2 separate regions of the Homo sapiens genome follow, and region 2 is linked to region 1. Evidence: fine-mapped expression QTL. A gene starts in region 1. The other region holds a variant in brackets. All regions are shown on one strand. Distances are from middle to middle.

Region 1 (5,442 bases):
AGGAGGCATCACCCCCGAGAGGAGGCATCACCTGTGCCCAGGAGGCATCACCCGCCCAGAGGAGGCGCCCCAAGTTGGCAGGGTGGTGGGGGCTGGGCCTCTCAGTAAATGGTCCAGAGCTTCCCCTGGCAGATCAACTGTTTCTTGGGGACTTAAAGAAGAATTGGGGTACTGGGACTCCCACTTAGTGACCCCGGAGCCTGAGGTGGCCCACGGAGGAGTGCCCAAGCCCTCAGCAGCCAGACCAGCTCCACACGCAGCATAATTGCTGGTGATTAAGTAATTGCCAGACTTTGTCCAATAAAAGTCAGCACGTGACCGTGCCCAGACTCTGGGCCATCTCCAGAAGACAATGGCCTAGTGTTCTGTCCCCTGCGCGGCTGCAGAAGGCAGGGGCTCTGCCCTCGACAAAGCAACAGGTCCCGCAGGGGTGGTACTCACACGCAGGCCTCCGTGCCATTGGCCGCTTCACACTTCCCGCCATTCAGGCAGGTCTCACCGGGCTGGGAGCATCGCGGGCCTAGGCAGGGGCAGGAGAAGAGAGGTCAGTCTCACCCGCACCACCACCACCGAAGGCCCTGGTTACCCTGGGGGCGGGGACCTGCACCCAGCCAAGGGGCATCGTCCGCCCCCTACCCCGGACGCACTCTGCTCAGTATCATGGGTTGCTGGGGCACGGGTCCGCAGGAAGCCCCTCCATGAAACCAAAGGGGCGTCAACATTCTGCCCAGAGTTCTGTAGTCAGAAATGGGGGGAAGGGGAGCAGCAGGGAACACGTCCTGCTTGAAGCAGGGTGGGGTGGCCTGATGTGCCGCCTGGACGCAGTGGGGGAAAAGCAGAGACAAAGTGGGCTACTCTCCAAAGCGTTGCCCCCCACCCTGGAGGCTCACTGAGGAGTCTGGCAGGGCAGGGCCCCCCATCCAGCCGCCGAGATTGCCTCTGTTCAAACCCGTTCTGCAAGGGGGCAGAGCTGGACGGGGGGAGGGGGGGTGGCCACACTCAGCTCCCGCCCGTGGGAAAATGCGACAGCTGCTCGCCCGCTACCCCGCCCGCCAACAAAGCGCCGGCCTCCGCCTCAGAATCAGAGCGGCCCATTGTGGAGTCGGGGCCGCCTCCAGGGGCACCGGGACAGCACCCTGGGGACGCGGCCCCGCCTCCGCCGACACCCAATACCTGCCTCCGCGGGCGCGCATCTCCAGGGCAGCCCCCATACACCCACAGGAGGGGGATGAAGGTCCCCCATTCGGAAGGAATTCGACCCCATCTCGAGAAGGGATCAATTACTCAAGCCCCTCCCTCCCCATCTTACCGGGGCTGAGAAACGGGGGAGGGGGGTGTGACACAGAGCCGCACTTTCTGGAAGAGGACAGATAATTCTCGCCTCCAACTCTCGGAGAAAGAGTGGATTAATCACTCGATTCCCCAGAGACCCCGCTCGCTGTGCGGCGGGGAGAAATGTAAGAGCCCCCCACCCGCGTCCCGCTCTCCGCCCCCAAGCTTTCCAAACTTCAACTCCGCAAAGCAAAAGGAAAGTTCAGTCCCCCCGGGCGCGGCGGCTTCTTACGCAACCCCTCCCCCAAACTGAGAGCCGGGCTGGGGGGCACCGGCGGGCGGGGCGACCGGGAGCCCGGGGACCCAGCCCGGCCGCGCGGGTCAGTGAAGGCGAACGCGGCGCCGCAGAGCCCACACTCCGCGCCCCAACATCCGCCCCGGCGTGGGCCAGAGGCGAAGAAGAAAGAAGATAAATGGCCCGGAGAAGCAACAGGAAACCAAAACCGACTCTATTCAAATCGAAAAATAGTAGGCAGCCCGCCCGCCCGGCCGACCGGCGGCAAGCCCCACGCGCGGCGGGTGAAGGGCGGGCCCGGAGTAGGGCCTCCGGGGCCCCAGCACCCCACACCGGCCTCCTAACTCGGCTCCAGGCACGGGCGGCGCGAGTCCGCCTCCACGGGGGGATCGAGGGGGAAGGTCGGTCCTCCCTGATCCCGGGACTCCAGAACCCCACGCCCCGGGCCGCCCGCTTTTCCCTCTCCATGCTGGCCTCCCCGCCGCCCGCTCCCAGCCGTGGGGCGCGCGCGCCGGGCGCCGCCAAAGTTTCCAAAGGGCGCGGAAAGTGGGGGCTCGCGGGTGGGTGGGCGCCTACCTCGTGCGGCGAGCGCGGGCAGCAGCGCCAGGCAGAGCAGGGGCGCCAGGAGCGGCGGCATGCCTCCCCACCGGCTGCCCTCTGCGCCCGGGCGGCGGCCTCCTGCGCTGGCCGGCGGGGCTGGGACGCACACGCGCGGCGTACGGTCCCGGGGCGGCGGCGGACGGTCCCGCCCTCTCTTCCCCGGCTGGCTGGCGGCGCTGTGCTCTCGCAGGCCCCCGGGCCCGGCTCCGCGCCCGGCTCGTTCCTTCGCTGCGCTCGCGCCCGCGCCCGCGCCCCGCGCCCCGCGCCCTTGCGCTCCCTCCCGCGGCCGAGGCACTAGTGAGGCTCAGAGTCGAGGTGCGCTCCGCCCCCGCCGGCCCCGCCCCGCCCGGCCCCACCCCCGCCGGTCCCCCCGCCCCCTCCGCGGCCACCTCCTCCCGCACGCCCCGTCCGCCTTTGCGCCTCCCCGAGCTGAGCCGCGCGTCCCGAGCCCAGCCTCTCCGGGGAGGAGGGACCCGGCGGCGCGGCGTGGGTCGGGAGCGGGCGCCTGGGACTACTTCTCGTTTGAAAGTTTTCAGAGGCCAAAAGTTTGAGCCGGGGCTGCGGAAGGATCCGGCTCTGGCGGTTGCCGCGCTCGGCGACAACTGGCGACTGAAATTTGCATGTGAATAAGCGGAGGAGCCCGGGGCGGAATGGGGAGGGCGAGGCCGCGGACAGCCGTGTGCACCGTGCGCTGGGCCGGGCGGGGAGCAGCTGAGGCCACGTTGGGGGACCCCGGGCCCGGGGCAGGGCTCTGGGAGAGTGGCCTAGCCGTGTGTGCGCCCCTAGCCCAGCGGCTTCACTCCCTCCCGAGGGCCCCGTGGCCGCGGCTTTAGGCGTCCAGAGGATCGATCGCCGCCAGACATCCCTGGCCGTGATTGCCCGAGCACTTGACCGCGAGGGATGGGGGCGCCGCGGCCTCTGGGCAGGGGACTCCGGGCGCCCCGAGGGAGCAGCCGGGACCAGTGCCTCGCGGACGGATTGTGCCCCGCTCCCCCAAGGGGGACCCGCGTCGACACGCTCCTCGGTCACCGTCCTCCTCCTGCCCGGGCGCCGCCTGCCTAAGGTGGCCCCAGAAAGCACAAACGGGTCGGGCGGATCTGCCGCTGGCGCCGGCGCAGCCCTTCCCACGTGCTCCTTCCGGCTGATTTATTTCTCCACCACGATGCCAGGCACGGGCACCCTGTGCCAAGCCTGGTTAAGCGCCAGGAGTCCAAAATGCCTGCCATAGTCCCTGCGCAAAGTTCACGGCCTCGTGCCAGGGACAGACAGCGCCCCCTCCCCACCCCAACACAGGGTGGTGAGTGCGATGGCAGAAGGCGCGTGTCCCGGCGCCCCTCCTGGAGTAGGAGGGCTAAGCCTGCCCTGCGGGGAGACCGAAAGGCTGGGAGGGACCTAGGACTGTGGGGGCCTGGGGGGAGGGCTGCAGAAACCCCAGAGCATGGTGGCAGAGGCAGGCACAGAAAGCAGGACAAATCTCACACCTGACCCCAGCAAGCCTTTCCTGGCACACCTCTTGCCAAATGCTGAGCACTCTGGAAACAGCCAGTGCAGGCGGCCTGTCCCGCCCCTGTAGCTGCTGCTGGGAGCCTCCCTCGCCTGCGTCCTCCCAGAATCTGGCCTCACTTCTGCAGGCCTGGGGTAACATCTTGGGGTCAGCGCCCCAGGAGAGGAGGCGCCTGGAGGCAGCAGAGATGTTTATGTAACAGCAGCCAGGCAGCCTGGAGGAGCAGATTTTCCATAGAAGGAAGCGCGGGGCTGTGCAGCTCCCAGGCTGAGGACTCTGCCCACCACGACGTCCTCTGCTCCTGGTGGGTGGGGGTGGGGTGGGGCATAGGGAGGCCCGAAGGCCTCAGGCCTGGTGCTGATCGGGTGCGGGTGCGACTGCCTGTGTGCCTCCATTGGCATCTCTGCCTGTGGGCCCCAGGCCAGAAGTAATGGCCCATGTAGCCCAGGCCCGGGGGCCAGTCCTCAGCATTTTGCGGAGGGGCGGCCTGGGAGGGGAGGAGGGGATCCCTGGATAGGGGGTCTCCCCTGGTCTGCCCCAGCTGTGCCGACAGCACCTCCACCTTGGGCCTCCATCCTCTACCAGCAGAGAAGAGAGTGGCCCATTCGGTGTCCACCCGTCAGGCCACCCAGCAGCCAGGCACGCTCATAAGCCCGCGTTACGGATGGTGCGGCCGGGTGCACAGGCCCGAGGGAAGCACAGGCCTCGGCCTCCCAGCTCCCAACCCCTGCACCACCCACAGCCGGGAGTACCCCATGGACAGCTGTGGCCGAGGAGAAGCCAGGGATGAGGGGGATGGGCCTCACCTCCCCACCAGCCTGGGAAGGGGGTAGGCCCCTGGCAAGTAGGTGAGAAGCTTTTTCATTCACAAGTTGTCCGGGCTCCCCATTCCTCTTTGTCAGGCCAGCGGGTGTGGGCAGTCGGGGGAGGCTGGGGTCCTGACACAACAGGAGTACATCTGCTGGCCTAGGGCCTGGAGACCTTCTCCTACAGGTCGGGAGGCAGCCCTGGGCAGCGGGCATTGCGGGGACTAAAGAGAAACAAGAGCAGGTTGTGTGCAGGGCACCCCAGCCACTCCAGAAACCCAATGGGAGGGTGGGGGCTAGGACCCCAAGAAGCTGAATTGGGGTGCAGTGCCGCCAGGCCTCCCCTGTAGGAGTCACTTTGGGCTTCCTGTCCCAACTTGTGGTGGGAGCTGGGGCAAGGTTCCAGGGGTACCCCGAATGAATGGGGCTGTTCCCAAGCTGGCCAGGGAGCCTGGAAGCAGATGAGATGGGGCCGCAGAGCCTGGTTTGCGGAGGGGAGAGGCAGACGTGTCCTGCAGCCCTCTCTTCTTCAGAGGCCCCCTGCGGGTGCTGAGGGGAGAGTGGCTTAGGCGTTGCACCCCAGGAGACTGAACTGGGTCAGTTCCCCCTTGTTTGCTGCCAGAGAAATGGGGGTACCATTGTCAGGGTGAGCTAAGGAGGCCCTGCTGACATTGGCCCAACCAGGCCCCTCCTTTGCGGCTGCTGTGGGGACTTTCGAGAGCAGAGCACACCCCTAAGTGCGTGGAGAGGTAAGCACAGCTGGTGAGCACACGGGGACAGCGACGGAGCTCATGGAGACCCAGGTGACCTTAAAACACCCCAGGGCCGGCTCCGGCCCCAGAGAGATGTGGTCCGAGTAGAGGGGGGTCAGCAGTGACCTGGTGGGTGGGTGTATTTGAGGGGTGCCTGTGTTGAAAGCTCTGCAGTAGATTCTAAGGAGCAGCCAGGGCTGAGACTCCCGGTGC
Region 2 (5,220 bases), 44 kb before region 1:
TCCTCACTGTGGTCCTAGCTGCCATGACCACCTACAAAACAGAGAGGTCAAGTCCCTGCCCCCAACGGCGGTTACAGCTGGCACTCAGGAAGCCGGGCTCACGGCCCTACAGCCGTCTCAGAACCGCCGAGCTAGTGTCCGGCTCTGCCCAGAGAGGGGGTGGGCAGCCCTTGTAATGCAGCCGGGTCTTGGCATCTGGCAGGAGGAATGGCCCCTGCTCACTGGCGGGTGCAAAAGGCAACTTGGCCTGATTCCTGCAAAGCACCTGGGAACTTCCACATCTGTGCAAAGAAGGCAGCTGAGAGAGGCACACACCAAACCCGCACGGGGCTCCCTTCCACGCTCTTTCTGCTCACCTACATTTATTTCTGCGAGATGACAATGTGTCACCTGAGCTAAGAAATCAGGAAATGAGAAGCTCTGTGGTAACTCCCCGGGCTGTGCCCATCTGAACCTGCTTGCTCCAGGGCCGCCTGGAGCCTGGGGACTCGCAGCAGGGGTGACTGCAAAGGCAGCCCCTGCCAGGGACACTCCCTGGAGACCCAGGCATCCAAATCCCTAAATCCATTCTTGCCACGAGCTCACCGGCAAGCTGAGCCCTAGGTCTGCAGGCACCGAGCGGCAGCCTCTAAACCCTGCTTCTCACTGCCACAGGCTACGCCGGCAGCCAAGGTTGAGGGAGGGGCGGGGCTGCGAGGGGCTGCAGCAGTGGAACCTGGACCTTGAGCAAGGCCCACAACCCTGATGGAGCCTGTTTTGCTGGGGGTGGGGAGGTGCTGCCTCACTCAGCAGATCCCCCAGGCCTCCTGCCAGACCCGCCTCTGCCTGACTTCCCTGGAGAACACAGATGGGCCCGACGCCCTCCCCCTCGCACCTCGCTGACTGCGAAGGTCCCAGGTGGAGGCACCAGTTGTCCCGGACTCAGCTGTGCTCGGGGTCAGGCTCCCAGGGCCACGTAAGCCTGGCCACTGCCCCAGACCACCAGGCGGCCCTGAGGAGGGCAGGTGGGCACACAGGCAGCCACTGCCTACCTGGAAGACACCTTGTGCGTCGGCAGACACAGCCGCATGCAGCGGGGTGCGGCCCATGTTGTCCTGGATGTTGGCATCTGCGCTGGCCTCCAGCAGGCGCTTGGCGGCATCAGAGCGTGAGTAGCGGGCGGCCAGGTGCAAGGCGGTCTCGCCCGTGCGGTCTGTCTGGTTGTGCAGGCTGGCGCCCTGGTAGATGAAGTCGGAGATGACGGCCGGCGCGTCCTCCTCTTCCTCGCTGTTGCCCGTCTCCAGGCCGCCCCCGCTGCAGGAGGCGATCATGAGCGGGGTGAAGCCATCTGCAGAGGCAGAGACGGGTGCTCAGTCTGGAGGGCCGGTCCCCAGCTGCAGCCCAGGGGGAGGGGGGCAGCAGCCCCAAGCTCAAGGGGCCACGGTGTGGATGCACCACCCAGCACTTGGTGGCCCCGTGCACACAGCCACCAAGGGGCAGCTGAAGTCCGCCTGGGCTGCTCAGTGGACAGAGCCGAATCCAGCTTAAACTCCTGGCGGGCAACTGCTTCCTGACCTGCCCAAGACCTGGCACCCAAAATCCACCCAGGAAAAAGAGGACCCCAGAAGCATGCAGTTAGAAAATTAATGCTTCAGCAGGATGCGGAGGCTCACGCTGTCATCCTAGCACTGGGGGAGGCCGAGGTGGGCGGATCACCTGAGGTCAGGAGTTCGAGACCAGCCTGGCCAACATGGTGAAACCCCATCGCTGCTAAAAATACAAAAATTAGCCAGGTGTGGTGGCAGGCGCCTGTAGTCCCAGCTACTGGGGAGGCTGAGGCAGGAGAATTGCTTGAACCCGAGAGGTGGAGGTTGCAGGGAGCCGAGATCGTGCCACTGCACTCCAGCCTGGGTGACGGAGCGAGACTCCATCTCAAAAACAAAAAAAAAAGAAAAAAAAAAAGAAAAAGAAAATCAACGCTTTCCATGTCTCAAGAAGGTTTCAGAAAAGAGTAATTTACAGGGACAGAGTGGCCCTGCGGTATCACCCCAGGAAGGGGTTGGTGGAAGAACAGGAGGACTCCAGGACCCCCCCACGTCTACTCTGAATGGGAAACACCCCAAGGATGAAAGCTCTCACCCCCAATTCTAAGTTTCCAGAGTATCAACTGTACCCCAGCCTCGGGGCTTAGGGGAGAGAGGCAGGTGGGCCACGGGGCTAGGGAAGCCCTGGCTGCTGGCACCCTTACCAGGCCCGCGGACATTGACGTCCATGCAGTCGGCGTCAACCTCACCCTGGGGCGGTGTGGGGGCCATGGCAGACATGCGCAGGTCAGCGGCATCCAGGTGCTGCTGAGTCCACTGCCGGTGGTCTGTCTGGTCGTCCAGGTCAGGCAGAACCACGGGCTCCTCGAACTACATAGAGGGAGTGAGCAGAGCCTGTCAGGGCAGCCCGGCAGCAGGTGCCCGGGAGCCCAGGAGCCCGGGAGCCTCGCGACTCACCCGGAACTTCTTGGTCTCCAGGTCCTCGTCCCCCCACTCATTCTGGTTGTCGTCCATGAGGGCACCGTCTGAAGCGTTCTTCAGGGGCCTGGGGGGTGAGGGGTCGAGAAGTGAGGCTGAGCGAGCTCCCTAGGAAGCCCCCAGAGACCCCTGGCCCGGGCCTGGCGTGGGAGGTGGGCCCTGGGTCGGGAGGGGCAGACTCCCGGTGAGGATGCTCGGCCAGGTCCCACCTCCCACCGGGGACCCAGAAGCAGGGGCGGCGTCCGCTCACTTGAGGCCCACGGAGTCCTCGCCGAGGGGCTCCCGCCGCTTCTTCTTGCTGGCCTCAGACACTTTGAAGCCCTCAGGGAACCAGAGCTGGCCATGCTGCCGCCGGCGCTTGCGGGACAGCAGCACCCCGCAGCCCACGAAGAACAGAAGCACAAAGGCGGCCGCCGCCACGTACATGAAGTGCAGCTGCGCCGGCGGGGGCGGCTCCACGGTCTCACCTGCGGGCA[C/T]GGGGGCCAGGGGCAGGTGCCCGGACATCAGGCAGCGGCTACGCAGCAGGCTGGTGGCCGGGGGGCGGCGGACTGGCTCCGCGTCCGGGCGCCTCCTCACCCACTCTCCTCCATCCCGCCCTCCAAAATAAGGTCATTTTCTACGCGATTAATCAGAATTGCAAACTATCGCTAAATTCTCTCCTGCACCAGCCGACTCTATCTGGAGACGGCTTTTACTTTTTTCTCCTTTAAGGAAGGAGGATTAGTCAACTTCAAATCGCTGCACTCGCACTGAGCTGTTAAGACAAAGGATTTAGAGGGATTTTCAAGATACAAACTTCAACACTTCACATGACACCGATCAATTCTTCTCTCTCTCTCTTTTTTTTTCTTTAAAAAAAGCCGTAATGATTTTGAAATAATACCCAACAAAGAAAATTCAGGAGGAAAGGGTGGGGAGAGAAGCAGGCACCCACTTTCCCGTGGCTGGACTCGTTCCCAGGTGGCTCCACCGGCAGCTGTGACCGCCGCAGGTGGGGGCGGAGTGCCATTCAGAAAATTCCAGAAAAGCCCTACCCCAACTCGGACGGCAACGCTCACACCCGTGGGTAGCAACTGGCACAAACAGCCAGCGTGTCTGGGGCACGGGGGGATGGCACCCCCTGCAGGCAGAGCCTGTTCCCGGGATGGGGCCACACTTACTCTGCACGGCCTCGATCTTGTAGGGGATGTTGAGGCTGCCCAGCGAGGCGAGCGCTCCCAGGAATGCGGCCACGTCGGTGGCACTCTGGAAGCACTGCGAGGAGGCCTGCACACACTGCCGGTTGTCAATCTCCAGGTAGACGATGGAGCTGGGCGGACAATCAGAGAGGGGCTGGGACCCGAGGCTTCCTCCTCCCCCGCCCACCGGCCAGGGATGCTGCCGCAGGACACTGAGGCCCATGACGCCACAGTCAGGACATGGTGAGGCAGCCTGGGGTGGTGGGAAGCCAGGTCTGACAGCAGCTACCCTGCAGGGGACTGGTGCCAGCCCCCCGACTCCGGCCAGTGCTGATCACGGCTCATCCCAGATACCCACCAACGCGCTCTCCCTGGCCCGCCCTGACACCCTCTCTGGCTCCTGCTGGTGCCACAGACACGTTTCCTCATCTCAGGACAGAGTATGTGCCAGGAGCCCAGTCCTCCCCCAGGAGCCATCCCCAGGCCCTGCAGGAAGCACAGGCGTGAGGTGGGGGTGGGTGCAGCGGTGGTGGGCTGTGTGGTGAGGCTGGCTGGGGGTGAGCTCTGCTCCCCAGGACTGGGTTCCCGTGAGCAGGATCCCATCCAGCCTGTGAGATGATGCTTCTGACCTCCAGGATTGCTCCAAGCCAGCAGAACTGACAGGCAAACCCACCAGGGTCAGGCACACGAAGGGCACAACCAACCTGGCTCCTGGGTCCAGCTGCCCCAGATCGAGTAGGCATGGGCGGGAGCCTTGTGGGGTGCCCCCTGCACTCAAGCTGCTCCTGCCTGTGTTCTCCCACCGTGGGACCCCCCACCCCCACCAGCTCCTCCTCCAACTGCAAGGCCCAGCAATGCCCCCTCCCAGGACCTCCACCTGCCTCCTCTCCAGCCCAAGCCAGGCAGACGCCATGACCAAGCGGCATTCTTGTCTGGGGTGGGGCTGTTCAGCCCTGTGGGAACCCCTGGAGAGCTGAGTGTTTTGTTTTTTACTTCTTTTAATACTTTTTTAAAAAAAACAGAGACAAGGTCTCCCTATGTTGCCCAGACTGGTCTCGAACTCCTGGGCTCAAGGGCTCCGCCTGCCTCAGCCTCCCAAAGTGCTGGGATTACAGGTGTGAGCCTCCTCGCCTGGCAGAGGGCTGAGTTTTAATCAGTGTAGTATCCAGTGCCTAAGGCACAGCTCAATCTCAAAATCACCTACTGGGCACAGGAGTGCCGCCTGTCCAGGGGAAGGCAGTGGCCCAGGAAAAGGGTGTGGCTGTGGGGTCAGGGCCCTGAGCTGGAATGCTGCCTCTACTCCTTGCCTGCGCAGGCCCTGAAGTCCCAGGTCCTCTCGGAACCTCCGTCTCTTTTACCATAAAGTGGGGAGAGTACTGCTTGCCATGGCGCCGGCCGTGAGGGGCAGGGAGGCCGTCGGGGAGGGCCCAGGAGAGTTGCGGGGATTGACCGTGGGCGCCGGGTCTCACTCACCCGCGGACGTCCATGGGGTCCAGCTCCCTCCGCCGCCGCCCACCCTCGCTGCCACCAGGGAGCAGCGA

What was found. PIP is the estimated chance that this variant, and not a neighbour inherited with it, causes the effect.
Region 2: its variant is the best candidate, but not a certain one, in a credible set for the expression of NOTCH1 in whole blood (TOPMed, PIP 0.51).

Annotation. Positions count from the first base shown.
Region 1 is chr9:136,543,583-136,549,024 of GRCh38, forward strand. NOTCH1 (notch receptor 1) reads right to left here and starts at 2,466. Exons shown (of 34, transcript NM_017617.5): 1 at 2,144-2,466; 2 at 442-520. The coding sequence starts at 2,204. MIR4674 (microRNA 4674) reads right to left here and starts at 2,677; the gene lies at 2,591-2,677. NALT1 (NOTCH1 associated lncRNA in T cell acute lymphoblastic leukemia 1) reads left to right here and starts at 4,260. Exons shown (of 3, transcript NR_121577.1): 1 at 4,260-4,519. RefSeq lists enhancers at 1,301-1,350, 3,323-4,234 and silencers at 1,581-1,630, 1,851-2,110, 2,131-2,690, 3,031-3,130.
Region 2 is chr9:136,499,521-136,504,740 of GRCh38, forward strand. It overlaps NOTCH1 (notch receptor 1), which reads right to left. Exons shown (of 34, transcript NM_017617.5): 26 at 5,153-5,220; 27 at 3,662-3,810; 28 at 2,752-2,968; 29 at 2,481-2,568; 30 at 2,228-2,393; 31 at 1,032-1,327. Among named protein-coding and RNA genes, the nearest start is that of MIR4673, 17 kb to the right of the region's middle. The variant C/T (reference allele first, on the strand shown) is at 2,978.